2 separate regions of the Homo sapiens genome follow, and region 1 is linked to region 2. Evidence: fine-mapped QTL for protein levels in blood plasma. A gene starts in region 2. The other region holds a variant in brackets. All regions are shown on one strand. Distances are between the middles of the regions.

Region 1 (8,328 bases), 540 kb after region 2:
TATTTTTAGTAGAGACACGGTTTTACCATGTTGGCCAGGCTGGTCTCCAACTCCTGACCTCAAGCGATCCACCCACCTCAGCTTCCCAAAGTGCTGGGATTATAGGCGTGAGCCACTATGCCTGACCAAGACAGAGTCTTGTTCTGTGGCTCAGGCTGGAGTGCTGTTGTGCAGTCGTGGCTCACTGCAGACTCAAACTCCTGGGTTTAAGTGATCCTCCCACCTCAGCCTCCCAAAATGCTGGGATTACAGGGATAAACTTATTTCTTATCCCCTTCTTTTTAGTTACACAAAAGATAGCACTGCTTTGCACTTGCTTTTATCAGCAAACAATAATGTGTCTTGACGATCATTCCCCTGCAGAGCATAAAGAGCTTTTTTTTTTTTAATAGGTTCATAGTATTTCATTGTAAGGAAATTCTATAATTGATTTAAACTAATCCTCTATTGATGGCTATTTGGGCTGTCGCCCATGTTTTGCTAGCACAAACAATGCCTTAGTGAATAACCTTTTACATACGTCATTTTTGTGTGCAAGCTTTCCAGTTTCACATCGGAAAATGGGAACAGTCCAGGTAAATGGCCCATGGAGCATTTCTGCAAGAGCAGCAACCAGGAAAATAAAAGGCTGGAGAACCACTGCTGGAACAGGTGCCCCATCTCCTTGTGGTGGTAGCAACAGTACCACAGCATCTTGTGAGTGACCTGTGGCTGTTCTCCAGTGTATGCCAGAGTCAGATTCTGGCACCTGTGGGTCACTCTTCTTCATGCTCTTTTCTTTTCTTATTATTTTTGCCTACTTGGAATTCTTTTTTTTTCAAATTTGAGACAGAGTCTTGCTCTGTCGCCCAGGCCGGAGTGCAGTGATGCGATATTGGCTCACTGCAACCTCTTCATCCTGGGTTCAAGCGATTCTCCTGCCTCAGCCTCCCAAGTAGCTGGGATTACAGGTGCCCGCCACCATGCCTGGCTTGTTTTTGTATTTTTAGTAGAGACAGGGTTTCACCATGATGGTCAGGCTGGTCTCGAACCCCTGATCTCTGGCGATCCACATGCCTTGGCCTCCCAAAGTGCGGGGATTACAGGGTTGAGCCTGCACCTGACCCTACTTGGAATTCTTGAAGTGAGCCCCCCAGTCTGAGATCTTTCTGCTTTCTTTTTTTTTTTTTCTTTTTTTTTTTTTTTTTTTGGTATTCAGGAGGATGCAGCATGGGTTGTAGGCTTCATTTCTCAGGAGCCTGAGCCAAGGCACACATATAGTCTGAGCAGTTACCTTTCCAGGCAGCCAGAGTAGATTCAGCAAATGCTCTTGGAAGCAGCTGCCTTTCCCATCAATGCTTATTTGTTCTTGATAATGAAAAATGATGCTAGCATCCATTAAAAGAGAAAAGGCATCCTCTTGTGAGCTCTATTGGACAAGTGAGCACTTGTTGTACAGTCATCTGCAAGCACATGTGACCTGGAGACTGTGGGAAATGCCTCACTTCGCAGTGTTGGCTCCCAGCTGTTCTCTTGGGCTGTTTGAGTTTTGTTCCAAAGGTCAGAGGCAGAGGGTCCGAGCCTTTCCAGCACAGCCCACATTTGAAAGTAGTGCAAGCCTCACATTCATTCTTTGTAGAAGGTTTCCAGATCTTGTTCTTGAGTTATTGAATGATTCAAAGGTTCTGAATTCCACAACGGCTTTCCTGTGTTTTTGCAGCCAGATTCAGCACATTTTGGTGTCAGCCAGTGCTTGGAAAATGTGGCCCTAGATTGATGCGTGTTTATATCTGGGTTGTGTTTTTTATAGAGAATAAATCTGTGGTTACTTTTACCCATCCCACATTGCTGTTAACTACCCCTGGAATTTCTCTCCCTCCGCAAGCCTAGTGCTGAAGAACAGAAGCTTTGGTGCTGGCTGGTTCTGGGGCGAATGTTCCTTCAGAGGCTGACCTGCTCTGTGACCTTGACAAGGCCCTGACCTTGAGCAAATGACTTAAGCCTTTCGCCTCAGTTGCTCATCAGCATTAAGGGGGTTAAAAACCCCTACCTGCCTCACAGCAACATAGGAGTCAATGTAAAGTTCACAGTGCCCACACGTAATGACTGTCATAGTGAATATTTACTCTCAAAAAGATTTTTTGTTTTCAGTTTTTAGTTGTTGATTTTTTTTTTTTTTAAATAGAGATGGGATCCTACTATGTTGCCCAGGCTGGTCTCAAACTCCTGGCCTCAAGTGATCCTCCCACCTCAGCCTCCCAAAGTGCTGGGATTACAGGTGTGAACCACCATGCCCAGCCTATAACTATTGTTTTGTTTTGTTTTGTTTTTTGGAGATAGAGTCTTGCTTTATCATCCAGGCTGGAGTGCAATGGTGCAATCTCAGCTCACTGCAACCTCTGCCTCCTGGGTTCAAGCAGTTCTCCCACTTCAGCCTCCCAAGTAGCTGGGATTATAGACACCCACCACCACGCCCGGCTAATTTTTTTTTTTTTTTTTTTGAGACAGTTTCACTCTTGTTGCCCAGGCTGGAGTACAATGGCATGATCTTGGCTCACCGCAACCTCCGCCTCCTGGGTTCAAGCAATTCTCCTGCCTCAGCCTCCTGAATAGCTGGGATTATAGGCATGTGCCACCACGCCCCGCTAATTTTTTGTATTTTTAGTAGAGACGAGGTTTCACCATGTTGGCCAGGCCTGTCTTAAACTCCTGACCTCAAGTGATTCGCCCTCCTTGGCCTCCCAAAGTGCTGGGATTACAGGTGTGAGCCACCGCACCCAGCCTACTGTTAATTAAGAATTGTTTATGGCTTCTCTTCTCTGCACTTTTTCATAACCTTGGCATTTTTGGGTGCCTGGATTCTTTCATTTTTGAACCATAGGACTTTGACTGATGGGGTATTCCTCAAGAGACCCTAATAGCTATATATTTCTTACTGGTTCATTGAGATTTAATTTACATACCACACAATTTACCCACTGTAAGTGTACAGTTAGATAATTTTTATAAACGTACACAGCTGTTGAGCTGTCATCACAATCCAGTTTTAGAATACTTCCACCACCTCCCAAGTTCCCTTGGGCCTATTGGTAGTCAAGCCTAACTCAGCTCCAGACAACCCTTGATCTGCTTTTTGTCTCTAGTTTTCTAGATTTTTCATATGAACTGTGTACTTTGGTGAACAGCTTCTTTCACTCGGTGTAATGCTTTTAAGGTTCATCTATGCTACTGCGTTTTGTGATGTTTGATCCTTTTTATTGCTGAGTAGCTATACCATATTTTACCCATCCTAATTACTTTTTGGGTTGACTGTATATAAGCCACATTTACACATTTTTTTAAATGGGTAAATGTGAAATAAGAAGAAAGTTGGGGCTGGGCATGGTGGCTCACGCCTGTAATCTCAACACTTTTGGAGGCCGAGACGGGTGGATCACAAGATCAGGAGTTCAAGACCAGCCTGACCAACATGGAGAAACCCCATCTCTCCTAAAAAAAACAAAAAACAAAAATTAGCTGGGTATGGTGGCGGGCACCTGTAATCCCAGCTGCTTGGGAGGCTGAGGCAGGAGAGTCACTTGAACGCAGGAGGCGGAGG[T/C]TGCGGTAATCTGAGGTCATGCCACTGCACTCCAGCCTGGGTGACAGAGCAAGACTCTGTCTCAAAAAATGAATGAATAAATAAAAGAAAGTTGGACAGGAAGATCCGTTCTCACTGTGTCACCCAAGCTGGAGTGCAGTGGCCCGAACATGATTCTCTGCAGCCTTGACGTCCCCAGCTCAAGTGATCCTCCTACCTCAGCCCTCCCAAATAATGGGGACTACAGGTGCATGCCACCATGCCCAGCTAATTTTTTTTTGTATTTTTTGTAGAGATGGGCTCTCCCCATGTTGCCCAGGCTGGTCTTGACGGGACTTGGACTCAAGTGATCCGCCCACTTCAGCCTCCCCAAAGTGCTGGGATTATAGGTGTGAGCCACCGCACCTGGCCAGGTGTTTAAAAATAGAATAATGTCCAGAACCTAATTTTGGAGAACAGGATGTAAAGGGATGCAGGACAAGGGAGTAAATGAATTAGGAAAGGGATATAGACCAGGATCTGAAGGACACATATCAGGTGTTAGCAGTGGTCTCTCTGCAAGGATGGGCTTGTGAATACTTTGTGCGATTGGCTCATCTTTTTTTTTTTTTTGTAACAGCTTTATCGAAACATAATCCACATAGCATATATTACACCATTTAAAGTGTAGAATTTAACAGTTTCCCTTATAGTCACAGACTTAAGCAAGCGTCACCACAATCAATTTCATAACATTTTCATCACCTCCAGAAGAAATCCCTCACTCCTTAGTTGCTACTGCCCCAGCCCTGGACATCTGGATTCAGTTAGTCTGAGGCAGGGGCCCTGGCTGAGTATTTTTAAAAAGTGCCCCAGGAGGCTGGGCCCGGTGGCTCATGCCTGTAATCCCAGCACTTTGGGAGGCTGAGGCGGGCGGATCACATGATGTTGGGAGTTCGAGACCTGCCCGACCAACATGGAGAAACCCCATCTCTAAAACTACAAAATTAACCGGGCATGGTGGCGCATGCCTGTAATCCCATCTACTCGGGAGGCTGAGGCAGGAGAATCACTTGAACCCGGGAGGCAGAGGTTGCCGTGAGCCAAGATCACACCATTGCACTCCAGCCTGGGCAACAAGAGCAAAACTCCATCTCAAAAACAAAAACAAAAACAAAAAACCCAGGAAAGTCTCTGTGCAGCACATTAGACCCTGAATGGAAATGATGTTAGGAGGCATTTTGGTGCATGCTTTATTTCACCAGTCGGAATGTAAGCCTTACCAATGTCTGTGAGGGCCCAGGACTTGTTCTCCCACATCTCAGGCCTGTCAGCTGCCCTTTCCTGCACGGGGCATCAGGGAGAGAGAGGAGGAGGGATTTAGTAGCTTTGGAATTCAGTACATGGGGTCTCCCTAACCTCGGGGAATCCAACAGAAAGAAAAAGGAGGAAGAAAATGTGATGATTTTCTTTTTAATCAGTAAGCAAACAGTTCCTAGAGTTGCCCAACCTGACCACAGGAATGTTTCCTGGGTTGCAGTCCATGAAAATGATCAGTTACGGCCTCTGTTTCGGCAGACAGGCTGTGTTGTTACGCATGCAGCCACAGCTGGGACAAGAAAGCCCCTCCAATTTGCTGTGAACCCAGAGGGCCTCCCCATTCTCCTTATTCTTTTTGAGAAAATCAAACGCATTTCCCTCCCTAAGACAGGTGGGGAAGCAGTCCCCCTCCAGCCTCCGCCTCTGCAGGAGGCCTAATGTCGCTGCCAACTCCTTGCTAGAATGGAGATGAGTTGTTTTTCTCCCCTCTTCTTGAAAACAAATTGAGATGAGATTCCTTGCCAGTTGGTGTTGACTCTGGAAAATTGAAACCAAGCAGTTGGTTTTGACTTGAGCAGAGAAGCAACCCCAGCTTCTCCAGTCAAGGCAGCAGATACCAATCCAGGCAGGAATATTGAGATGAAACTGAGTGAGGCTGTTAATCAATGGGCACACTGGCTGTTGCTGTCCTCTCTGGGAGAGGCCTGGAAAGAAAAATGATTTAAAACTAAGTTCCCTTCTGGCCTTGTTGTCAAGAAGGGTATGGGGTATGGGGAGGCAATGAGGCAATCTGGCCCGCAGGAGCAAGAGCTAACCTTTCTCATAGGCCTGTGCTAAAATCATGTTAATTCCACTTGAATGTTGGCCCCCGGGTGGGCAGGAGTGGTTATCTGTTGTGATTGTGGCTGGATCTTCAGTACTAGAACAGGCTGCCCCCATGCAGGAGGTATGCACACAGTAGGTGTGCAGGCTTTGAGTAGACCTTGGAACTGTTCCCCCGCACTGCCGCCTGCTCTCTCCCTTACTTCAGCACACAGCTCCAAGCTGGGGCAGTCTCTTTCACTTCCCTTTATTCCCTAATATGCCCTAATATTCCCTAATGTCCTTTATTTAGTGAGTTGTCCTGCCTGTCACATAAAGCCCTTGGAAATTCCTTACCTGCTTATATTTCTCTATTACACTTTTCATTCCTGATACTTTTTTTCGTTTTCTTTCTTTTTGGAGATAGCATCTCAATCTGTCGCCCAGGCTGGAGTGCAGTGGCACAGTTACAGCTCACTGCAGCCTCGACCTCCTGTGCTCAGGTGATCCTCCTGCCTCAGCCTCCTAAATAGCTGGGACTATAGACACGCGCCACCACACCCAGCTAATTTTTAATTTTTTGTAGAGTTGGGGTCTTGCCATGTTGCTCAGGCTAGTCTTGAATTCCTGGGCCCAAGTGATCCTCTCACCTCGGCCTCCCAAAGTGCTGGGATTACAGGCATGAGCCACCATGATTACTTATTGATTTACTTGTTAATTATCTCTTTGACATTGAAATGAAAGCCCCATGAGGTCAGGGACTTTGCTTTGTCCATTGCTGTATTTCTCAGGCCTTAGGATGATGCTTGACAAAGAGAGTAAGGGCTCGCTAAAGATTTACTGGAGGAAGAATCCTTGAAGCAATCCCTCAAAGGAGGTGGGGACGTCTGCCTATGTATTTTGTTTGTTTATTTTTTTGAGATGGAGTCTCTCTCTGTTGCCCAGGCTGGAGTGCAGTGGCGTGATCTCAGCTCACTGCAACCTCCACCTCCCAGGTTCAAGCAATTCTCCTGCCTTACTCTCCCAAGTGGCTGAGATTACAGGTGCCCACCACCATGCCCAGCTTAAATTTTGAATTTTTGTAGAGATTGGGTTTCACCATGTTGGTCAGGCTGGTCTCAAACTCCTGACCTCAGGTGATCCATCTGCCTCAGCCTCCCAAAGTGCTGTGATTACAGGCATGAGGCACCACACCCGGCCTAAACACTGACTTTTTTTTTTTTTTTTGAGATGGAGTCTTGCTCTGTCGCCCAGGCTGGAGGGCAGTGGCGCAATCTTGACTCACTGCAACCTCCGCCTCCCAGGTTCAAGCAATTCTCCTGCCTCAGCCTCCCGAGTAGCTGGGATTACAGGCATGCGCCACCACGCCTGGCTAATTTTTGTATTTTTGGTAGAGACAGAGTTTCACCATGTGGACCAGGCTGGTCTTGAACTCCTGACCTCAAGTGTTCCACCCACCTCCCAAAGGGCTGGGATTATAGGCGTGAGCCAGTACGCCCTGCGACACTGACTTTTAATCAATTCCAGAAGCGCCATTCATGACCCTTCCCCCCGGGCTGGTTCTGATCAACACCCATGGCGTTTGCCGTCAGAGAAGGAAACAGCATTTGTCCAAGCAGAACCATGGTTGGGAAAGCAAAAAGACACCCTTTGCCAGTGTGACCAAGTCGCTTGAGTAATCTTAAACAAAGGGAAAAAGTCAAGGGCGATGGCTTACACCTTTAGCCTTGTTTCTCCCACTTCAGAAAGTAAAGGGTAAAGGGTCCTGGGCTAATTTTTCCTTAATCTTCAATGTCACTGTTTTCTCTCTCCACCCCCGTCTGCTTTGATGGGGACAGAAGCCAAGGGGACTTTGCTCCCTGCTTCCCATCCAGGCAGCGTTCGTTGTTGACATCTGTTTTCAGGGTGTAGCTCAGTGAAGACAGAGACGATACATAATTTGTTCTGGGCACATATGTTTGGGGGACGTTAGAAGGAACTTGATAAGCTTCATGCAAATAAACTTCCAGTCCCTGGGAACCCATGGGGGTCGCCTGTCAACAGGGGTGCAGGAGCCGCAGCTGCCACCCTGAGAGCACATTGCATGGATGTTGTGGGCACGTTAAGAGTCATGCTTGTGCAACGTGATACTCCAACCTGCTTATCTTCCCTGGAAAAATGTTGTGGTTGACGTTGGCAGTTTAGAGGAACTTTGACTTATTTCAGCTTATGCAAAGTGGTAACATACAGCGAGACCTTTTTGAAACTGGAGTATAGTGTGGCTGTTGGAATATCCTTAGGTTTCTCTGAGGCCTGGAACTGGATTTCCAAGGCTCAATTTTCATCCAAGAAGAGAGGGAGTGTGTATAATGATGCTTTTGCCGTTATTCTCATTCAAGTTACTCTCCAACTGTCCTATTCTTTTGTGAGAACTAACTTCTCAGATCCATTCAGCTAGCAGGCTTGTGAATGGCTCATCAGTACTAACAGACAGGCTGCCTGGTGAGTCCTGGCGGCTAAGTAGCATCAGACTACAGCTTCCGTCACTTCATAGCTATGGAACTTGGTTAAGTTCCTTCTCTGTTTCCCCATTTATAGGAAAGGGATGCTGGCCAGGCGCAGTGGCTCATACCTGTAATCCCAGCACTTGGGGAGGCCAAGGCGGATGGATCACCTGAGGCCAGGAGTTTAGG
Region 2 (8,328 bases):
CTGCTGAGCCATGAGCTTTAGGGAGATTCCACCGGCCTCTAAATGGACTCAGCTCTGGCCACCAAATCAGCCCGAAAGCCCTGAGCTTAGTTTGGTTGCCTCAAGCCTGGGATCCACCTAGTTCAGGTAGGGGAGCTTGGAGCTTAGGCCAGCGAGAGGGAGTGCAAAGGGCCAGGTAGCAGGAGGGGCGAAGGGTGTTGGCTGTGTGCTCACCCAAGGAAGATAGCACAACTAGACTGGCTCCTAAGTCTCTGGATTTATTCTGTTGATGAAAAGAGTCAAACTCTGTAAAATATTTGGACACTTTTTTTTTTTTTTTGAGACAAGAGTCTCGTTCTGTCACCCAGGCTAGCATGCAGTGGCGCGATCTCGGCTCGCTGCAAGCTCCGCCTCCCAGGTTCACGCCATTCTCCTGCCTCAGCCTCCCGAGTAGCTGGGACTACAGGCACCTGCCACCACGCCTGGCTAATTTTTCGTATTTTTAGTGGAGACAGGGTTTCATTGTGTTAGCCAGGATGGTCTCGATCTCCTGACCTCATGATCCGCCCGCCTCGGCCTCCCAAAGTGCTGGGATTACAGGTGTGAGCCACCATGCCCAGCCTGGACGCTTTTTTTGGATGGAGTCTTGCTCTGTCTCCCAGGCTGGAGTGCAGTGACATGATCTTGGCTCACTGCAACCTCCGCCTCCCGGGTTCAAGTGATTCTCCTGCCTCAGCCTCCCGAGTAGCTGGGACTACATGTGCCCGCCACCACGGCCAGCTAATTTTTCTATTTTTATAGAGATGGGTTTCGCCTTATTGGCTAGGCTAGTCTCAAACTCCTGACCTCAGGGGATCCACCCACCTCGGCCTCCCAAAGTGTTGGGATTACAGGCGTGAACCACTGTGCCCGGCCCTATTCAGACCTGTGAAAGGTGCTAAACTCTTAATCTCTTCAGGTTTGGGAGGGCCTGGAAGAAAATCTAGCTATGTTAATAGAGATTCTTTACAGATGCAAAATTTCCTCCACAAAGGACAGTTTTGCAGGACCATTTCCAAGTATGGCAAAGAAACATTGTTTTGGAATATTTTGACTTTCTTGTCACCTAATGTTATGCCAGAGTCAGATTGCAAAGTAAGTTCCGATATATAGGATTAAATAAAACCCATCTAATGAGAATTTATGGTTTGTAGGGCAAACCATACAATTTGAGATAGTAATTTGAGCAATATTAAAAAAAAAAAATCAGGGCCGGGTGTGATGGCTCATACCTGTAATCCCAGCACTTTGGGAGACCTAGGTGGGTGGATCACCTGAGGTCAGGAGTTCAAGACCAGCCTGGCCAACATGGCGAAATCCCGTCTCTACTAAAAAATACAAAAATCAGCTGGGCGTGGTGGCGGGTGCCTGTAATCCCAGCTATTCAGGAGGCTGAGGCAGGAGAATCGCTTGAACCCAGGAGGCAGAGGTTGCAGTGAGCCGGGATCACGCCACTGCTCTCCAGCCTGGGTGACAGAGCAAAACTCTGTCTCAAAAAAAAAAAAAAAAAGGTGTCAGCCTGGCATGTGGAGAACGACCCACAGGAACGAGGGCGTGCATTGGGACATCAGTGACGAGGCTGTTGTGGGAATAGGGTAGTGTGGTTTGGGGAGTGTAGAGCTGGCAAGCCCTTATGACCACCTGAGTTGTGGTTCTGAGAAGCATGGAAGCATCCAGAGCTCAGGATGATGCCAAGTCTGCAGCCTGGGGGATCAGGTGGATGGCAGAGTCATTGTGAAAAGGGAGGACCCTCACTTTCTGACCCTTCTCCACAGTGCCAGCATGGGTCATTGCTGACCAGGCCTTGCCATCCTGCCCCTAATGGCTGTGGTTCCTAACACATGCAGGGCCTGTGGGGTTGAAGCACCAAGGAACCCCTCTTGAGGACAGGGCTACCCTTCCAGGGGCCCATGGTCACCGGATGCTGCTGGGCTGGCAAGACATTTAGACTGTGGCCAGAGTCCAAGGTGGCCCAGCACCTCTTGATCCTTCTCTTCCTCCACATAACCTTTGACTGGACTTCTGCCCGTCCCTAGGCCTGCAGAAGAGTCTCTGGTCTCCCACGCTGGGTTTTCACCAGATGGGTCTTCACTGATCTTCTGTTGGGTCACGGGTGAAGGTGGGGGAGGCAGGGGCTTTGGGAGTGGGAGTTCTGAGCCAGGGCCTTAGCGGGAGATGGCTGGACCTTAAGAGAGGGTGGGGCTGGTCACAGTGGCACACATCTGTAATCTCAGCACTTTGGGAGGCTGAGGCAGGTGGATCACTTAAGGCCAGGAGTTCAAGACTGGCCTGGGCAACATAGTGAGACCCCAACTCTACAAAAAATAAAAAACTAGCTGAGCTTGGAGGTGTACACTTGTAGTCCCAGCTACTCAGGAGGCTGAGGTGGGAAGGATTGCTTGAGCCTGAGAGGTCAAGGATGCAGTGAGCCGTGATTGTGCTACTGCACTTGGGTGACAGAGAGACCCTTTCTCAAAAAAAAAAAAAAAAAAAAAAAAAAAAGGAAAGAAAAGAAAAAGGGGCCGGGCACAGTAGCTCACGCCTGTAATCCCAGCACTTTGGGAGGCCGAGGCAGGTGGATCACCTGAGGTTGGGAGTTCAAGACCAGCCTGACTAACATGGAGAAACCCCGTCTCTACTAAAAATACAAAATTAGCCAGGGTGGTGGCGCATGCCTGCAATCCCAGCTACTCGGGAGGCTGAGGCAGGAGAATTGCTTGAATCCGGGAGACGGAGGTTACGGTGAGCCAAGATTGCACCATTGCACTCCAGCCTGGGCAACAAGAGCGAAACTCTGTCTCAAAAAAAAAAAAAAAAAGAAAAAGAAAAAGAAAAAAGAAAGAGGGAGGGTGGTGGTAGCCCAGTCACCAACATGTTTCACTATAAGAACTCGAGAAGGGCAGGGCAAGATAGTGGCTTCATAGCCAGGTCAGCTGCTTACCAAGAAGAAGGAAGGAAGGGGCAGGACAAATTTCTTGGGACCAGGTGGGATGACCAGGGTGCAGCTGCCCCTTCGAAGGGGTGGGTGTGTGGAGGATCAAGACCTCTATTTCCCAAATACTCTCGTCCCTCTATCCCACAGTGACCTATGGTGCTGGCATATAACCAGCTGTCAGGTCTTTGCCCACTCTGTTCGCCCCTGCTTCCTGGCGCAGGGAGTCCATGTCCTCTCTGGTTCCCCAGGTTTGCGAGAGTGGAGGGGGACCACGAGCTCCCGATGCCTCTCCTGCTCTGCAGGGGAACTTGCAGATGGCCCATGGCGCAGGGTCGAGACTCAAGCCCACTCCCAACCCCGCGCCCGAACTGCCCGGACTGGCGGGGTGACGCTGCACTCTGCGCCCCTAAAACGAACAGATTAACCCCTCTCTTGGGAACTGAACATGCTGACCTGGCCTCTCCCGGTTCCCCCCGCATCTGTAACCCCGGGGCAGAGTTACAGGGGCTGACTGGCCGCACCCAGGTGCCCTCGGGGCAGGGTGTGCTAAGAATTGGTGTGGGGGCTGCACAAAGGTCCTGGTCAGCTCCTGGTCACCTGAGGCCCAAGAACTGTCCGGGACTCACTTCCTCTCTTCTTGCTTTAACCGGGGTCGCTCAGCAGCGGCCAGCGCTGCACCCCTTATCCTCTCCCGGTCTTGTCCGTTCCAGATCCTCCAGGTCAGGGGGTCGCCAAGTGAGAGCTGCGCAGCGTGGATTTCGGGTACCCAGGGCTGGGCGGGGTACAGCAGCGGCGAGCTGGGTTCCCGGGTGGGCGACTGACAGCCCGGAGCCAGGCGATACCTCGATCCATCGATGCGCTCGGCGCTCAGCGTGGTCCAGGAAGCAGGGGGTTGGGCAAGGGCGGGGCGGCGACCTCCGACTGGGAGGGGCGTATATGGCGGCGAGTCCCTATTGGCCAGCCATTTGCGGGAGGCGGGCCCTGATTGGCCGGGGGGATGCGGGGGATGCGGGCGGCGGGGTTAAGCGCGTCGCCACCGCCCCCGCCTAGGCGAGAGCCCAGAGAGCTGAACCTGCATCCCGGACCTGCGGCGACCGTCGTACACCATGGGCCTCCACCTCCGCCCCTACCGTGTGGGGCTGCTCCCGGATGGCCTCCTGTTCCTCTTGCTGCTGCTAATGCTGCTCGCGGACCCAGCGCTCCCGGCCGGACGTCACCCCCCAGTGGTGCTGGGTGAGGCACGGGTCTCGTGGTGGATCTGTCGGTCGGGCGGGACGGGCCGCGGGCGGGGCTGCCTTCCCGGTCTGCTTCTGTTCCAGTCACGAAATGGGGGAGCGTATTGGTATCTGTCTTGTCACTTAGGTGATCTAGATCTGCCGGCTCACCTCCCGCCATGCTGGGCGCGGGTGTGGTCAGCTCCCCACCTCCTGTCCTGGTAGAAAATGGGGGTGAGTGGGAGAGTTACCATCTGGTTATTCATAGTTCCACCTGTCCGCATCATTCCCAAGCCTTGCCTCCCCTTATCCCATTTTTAAGCTGGAAAGACAGGTGCTTCAGCCCCACTCCTGAGGGATGGTGGGGGTGTGTAGAGTGGCTCCTGAGTTGACTTCTGCATCGACCTGGGCCTGGTTAGGAGGCTGTCACCCTCGACCCCTCCAATGCCACATATGCCAGAAGGCATTGCTGAAAGGAACCTCCTTAGGGAAAGGATTGCTGTCCTAGCTGGCCACCAACTCCCACAACTTATCAGATGTGTGGCATTGCCTGAGGGAAAAGGCCTAAGGGAAACTGAAGACAACTGAAGTCAGGGGAAAGGGTTGGGACAATGGCCATGAACCTGTGTCAGGCAACATGCTTGTACTCTTACCCTGCCACACATGCTTGGACTAGACTATGTGGAGGCTCGGTGACCTCCCCTGCTCACCCCGCTCCTTGATCACAACCCTGGCAACTCTACAACGGCCACTGTATTTCCTTGCAGGGATGGGCAGGGATGAGACCTCTGTCTGGGGGGCCTTGGGTGCCTCATTGAGGCCGTCACTCCCATCCAGAGCTGGTGTGTCCGTGGCCAGCCAGGATTCCTGAAAGCAGAGGCATCTGAGGCATGAATTACACGTGGAGTCTAGTGCAGCATGATCTCCATGCTCTTTCTGCTGAGAGTACTTTAAATGGGGACGATGCAAATCACAGAAGGGTAGAGTTGGCAGGTAGGGTGGTGCCAGGCAGGCCCCACCAGGAGTTCCCAGCCAGGAAAAGCTCCAGGGGGATACTAGGCCCAGGTTCACCATGGGATTTGGGCAGACTTGGCCCTGCCTCCCCAAAGCTTGCAGGATAGGAATAACAGTGATCCCCAGAGAGGAAGTCTGTGTGGGGCAAGCACAGAGAATCCACCAACCCAGCCTGGATGGGTGGGTGTCAAGTAAGGCTTCCTGGAGTATATAGCTGGAGCTAAGGCCAGGAGAGAGTAATGGGTCGGGGAGAGACGTGAGCATCTCAGGCTGCCTGGGATCGAGTCACAGGAGGAGTGGACTGCACAGGACTTGTGACTGGTTGGGTCATCTGAACTTTATCTTGAGGGCCTCAGGGAGTCCTGGGTTGGCCTGCAGAGTTCTAAGTCTGAGGGGCGTGGCATTAGGAAGCATGTGGTCTGTGGCACACAAAATGGCACATAGCCATTTTGCCTGGATTGATGCTAACCGCACTCATCAATTCAGTCAGTCTGTTTATCCTTGGTCACAGCAGAAGAGCCTCAGACCCCACCCAGAATCACAGAGCAGCAGGAGTCCTAACATGCCCAGCTTCTCAGGGAGTGAGGCTGCTGGCCTTAGCCCTGGGAGACCTCACGGTGGGCAGTTGGATAAGCAGCTCCTGGGCACAGAGCAGGGATCTGACCTTGACTGTCAGAAGATCAGAATCCTCTAGGGGTGGATCCTGAAATGGTGGTGGAGGAAAGAGAGACCAGCGATGTGATACAGAAGACCCTGGGCAAGGGGAAGGGACCATAGGCAAGGCCATTTCCACCTCTTGCAGCCTCAGTCTCCCCATCTGTTAAGTGGAAATAGTAAGGCTGTCCCCTCCCAGTGTTACTTGAGGTGAAAGGCATGTGGATGGCTCTTTTCCTAGTTCCAGGCGCAGATGGGCTCAGGAAGTGGCCACTGCTATTTTTAGGGGCCACACAGCCTGACCAGGGTAAGGAGCATCTGAGCAAAGCAGATCTGGTGACTTCCTCTTTTACCATTTCCCCTTTGGTAGAGACAGTGACCAGGGTCTCTGCCCTGCCCTGCCCAGTCCACAGGCATGTCATCCAGAGGCTGTCATGACAGGGACTCCCTCCCTCTGCACCCATACCATGAAGGGAGGTGAAGGCATGTGCCGCCCCTGCCTCTCATGGCACCCTGAAGACACTGGGATGGTGCCCAGGGAGGGCACGCCCTGTTCAGGGTGGATTTACGGTCAGTTCCCAGTGAATGTCCAGGAGAGCCAAGTGCTGGTTTTTCACTCAATGATCATGGACCCTAAACGGGGATGTGTTTGGGAAGTGGCGAGAGCATGGCATGTGGGGGCAGGTGAGGCCCGAAAGGTCAATGGGAGTAACGAGACTGTGAAGGGCTTTGACGCAGTGGGGAGGGATTTGGGTGTCACCAGGGCCCCAGAGTTCTGAGTACACTGAATAGGATGGCTGGGATGGAGAGAAGTCACCCTAGGGCCTGGACTGTGGTGATAATGGTGCTGGTTCAGGGTGGCTGTTTCCAATACGGGCTCCCAGCCATGCTAGGGCCCTCCAGATGATCTGCTCTCTGGCACCTTACTGGACTCTGGCCTTTAGTAAGGCCTGGGCCCTTGGTAGGCTGGCGGGTGCCAATGTAAGCTTCTCTCAGCTGTGTTTCTGTTCATTTCCCTCCCACCAGCCTGTCCTGCATACTTTGTCTGGTTGAATTTTAGCTGAGTGGCCCAGGGCTCTGTTCTGTTTCCTTCTTCCTCTCTCAGGGCGAACAGGACCCTGTCTTCTATGTAGCCTGGGATAGCTATGGGTGGAAGACTTTTGGGTTCAAGCCTCCAGGGTATATATCTTTTTTTTTTTTTGAGACCGGGTCTTGCTCTGTCACCCAGGCTGGAGGGCAATGGCACGATTTTGGCTCACTGCAACCTCTGCCTCCCGGGTTCAAGCAATTCTCCTGTCTTAGGCTCCTGAGTAGCTGGGATTACAGGTGTGTGCCACCACACCAAGGTAATTTTTTGTATTTTTAGTAGAGATGGGCTTTCACCATATTGGCCAAGCTGGTCTTGAACTCCTGACCGCAAGTGATCCACTCACCTCGGCCTCCCAAAGTGCTGGGATTACAGGCATGAGCCCCTGCGCCCTGCCTCGAAGGTATATATCTAATGACAAGGGCCTTGGCCAAACTTTGGAGGTTCTGGAATGCAAAGGGGTCTCCAAGCCCCTCCTCCCAGGCAGAGCTCCCATCGGGGTCCATTAACCATAGAAACCATGTGTAGAGGTGTGTCTGTGTTTGCTGGGGGTGATTCAGACCAAGATCTCATTTAACAGATACGGAAACTGAGGCCTAGTGTGGGGAGTGACTTCACCCTGAACCCCCTTCCAATAATCTGAATGGCCCAGGAGGATGTTCCAGTGAAAATCCAGGAGACTTACTTTATCTGGAGTTGGAGACAATGTTAGGGCCCTTCCCCAAACATGTCAGGCCTCTCCCAAGCCCCCCACAGGCATCTCTGCACCACACAGCAGTAGCAGCTTTTCTGCACAAAGATGGTTCCCTGGCCTTTGGGTCAAGGTCCCTGCTCTCTGAATTTCCTGCCACCAGCACTGTGCTTTAATTTGAGATGTGGAACTGCACAGGTCTGCCATATTATCTGTGGCTCTTCAGGGGGTCTGCTGCAGACATCAAAGTTCTTGGGAGTCTTGAACCTGCCGGGCTGAGGGCTCACACATGTCCTGTGCCCCCTGCAGTCCCTGGTGATTTGGGTAACCAACTGGAAGCCAAGCTGGACAAGCCGACAGTGGTGCACTACCTCTGCTCCAAGAAGACCGAAAGCTACTTCACAATCTGGCTGAACCTGGAACTGCTGCTGCCTGTCATCATTGACTGCTGGATTGACAATATCAGGTGGGGGCTGGGGCACACAGAGGGGGGTGCTGCTCACCAACAGTGCCTGAGAGGCCTCCAGAGTCTGTTCCTTCTATCCTCATCTCGAGGTCACTGACCTCTCTCCTTCCCCAGGTCCTCGGTCTGGTCTGGTCTGGTCTGGTTGGCACCACCTCTGCACTCCCAGGCAGAACTAACTTTCCCTTCCTGCTGCCCTTGTTCCTCTACTCTCCAGTCCTGGCCTCTCATGCCTACACACAATTTTTTTTT

Which allele goes with the higher level. Positions count from the first base shown, and alleles are read on the strand shown. Strength reflects both the effect of a copy and how common the allele is.
In carriers of allele C in region 1, the plasma level of the protein whose gene starts at base 4,006 in region 2 tends to be higher than with T alone (weak association).

The links. PIP is the posterior inclusion probability: the model's chance that the variant is causal. Protein levels are from antibody-based Olink assays in UK Biobank. Linkage for the fine-mapping came from a reference panel and not from the study's own genotypes, which makes the PIPs less certain.
Region 1: its variant is fine-mapped to the plasma level of the PLA2G15 protein (UK Biobank, PIP above 0.99).

Annotation. Positions count from the first base shown.
Region 1 is chr16:68,785,365-68,793,692 of GRCh38, forward strand. The region is part of intron 2 of CDH1 (cadherin 1); the gene reads left to right. Among named protein-coding and RNA genes, the nearest start is that of CDH1, 52 kb to the left of the region's middle. RefSeq lists enhancers at 1,379-1,523, 6,066-6,635, 6,770-6,914, 8,324-8,328 and cis regulatory regions at 1,451, 6,842. The variant T/C (reference allele first, on the strand shown) is at 3,578.
Region 2 is chr16:68,241,368-68,249,695 of GRCh38, forward strand. It overlaps PLA2G15 (phospholipase A2 group XV), which reads left to right and starts at 4,006. Exons shown (of 6, transcript NM_012320.4): 1 at 4,006-4,186; 2 at 7,923-8,079. The coding sequence starts at 4,060. RefSeq lists enhancers at 2,812-3,350, 4,472-4,972 and a silencer at 3,826-4,055.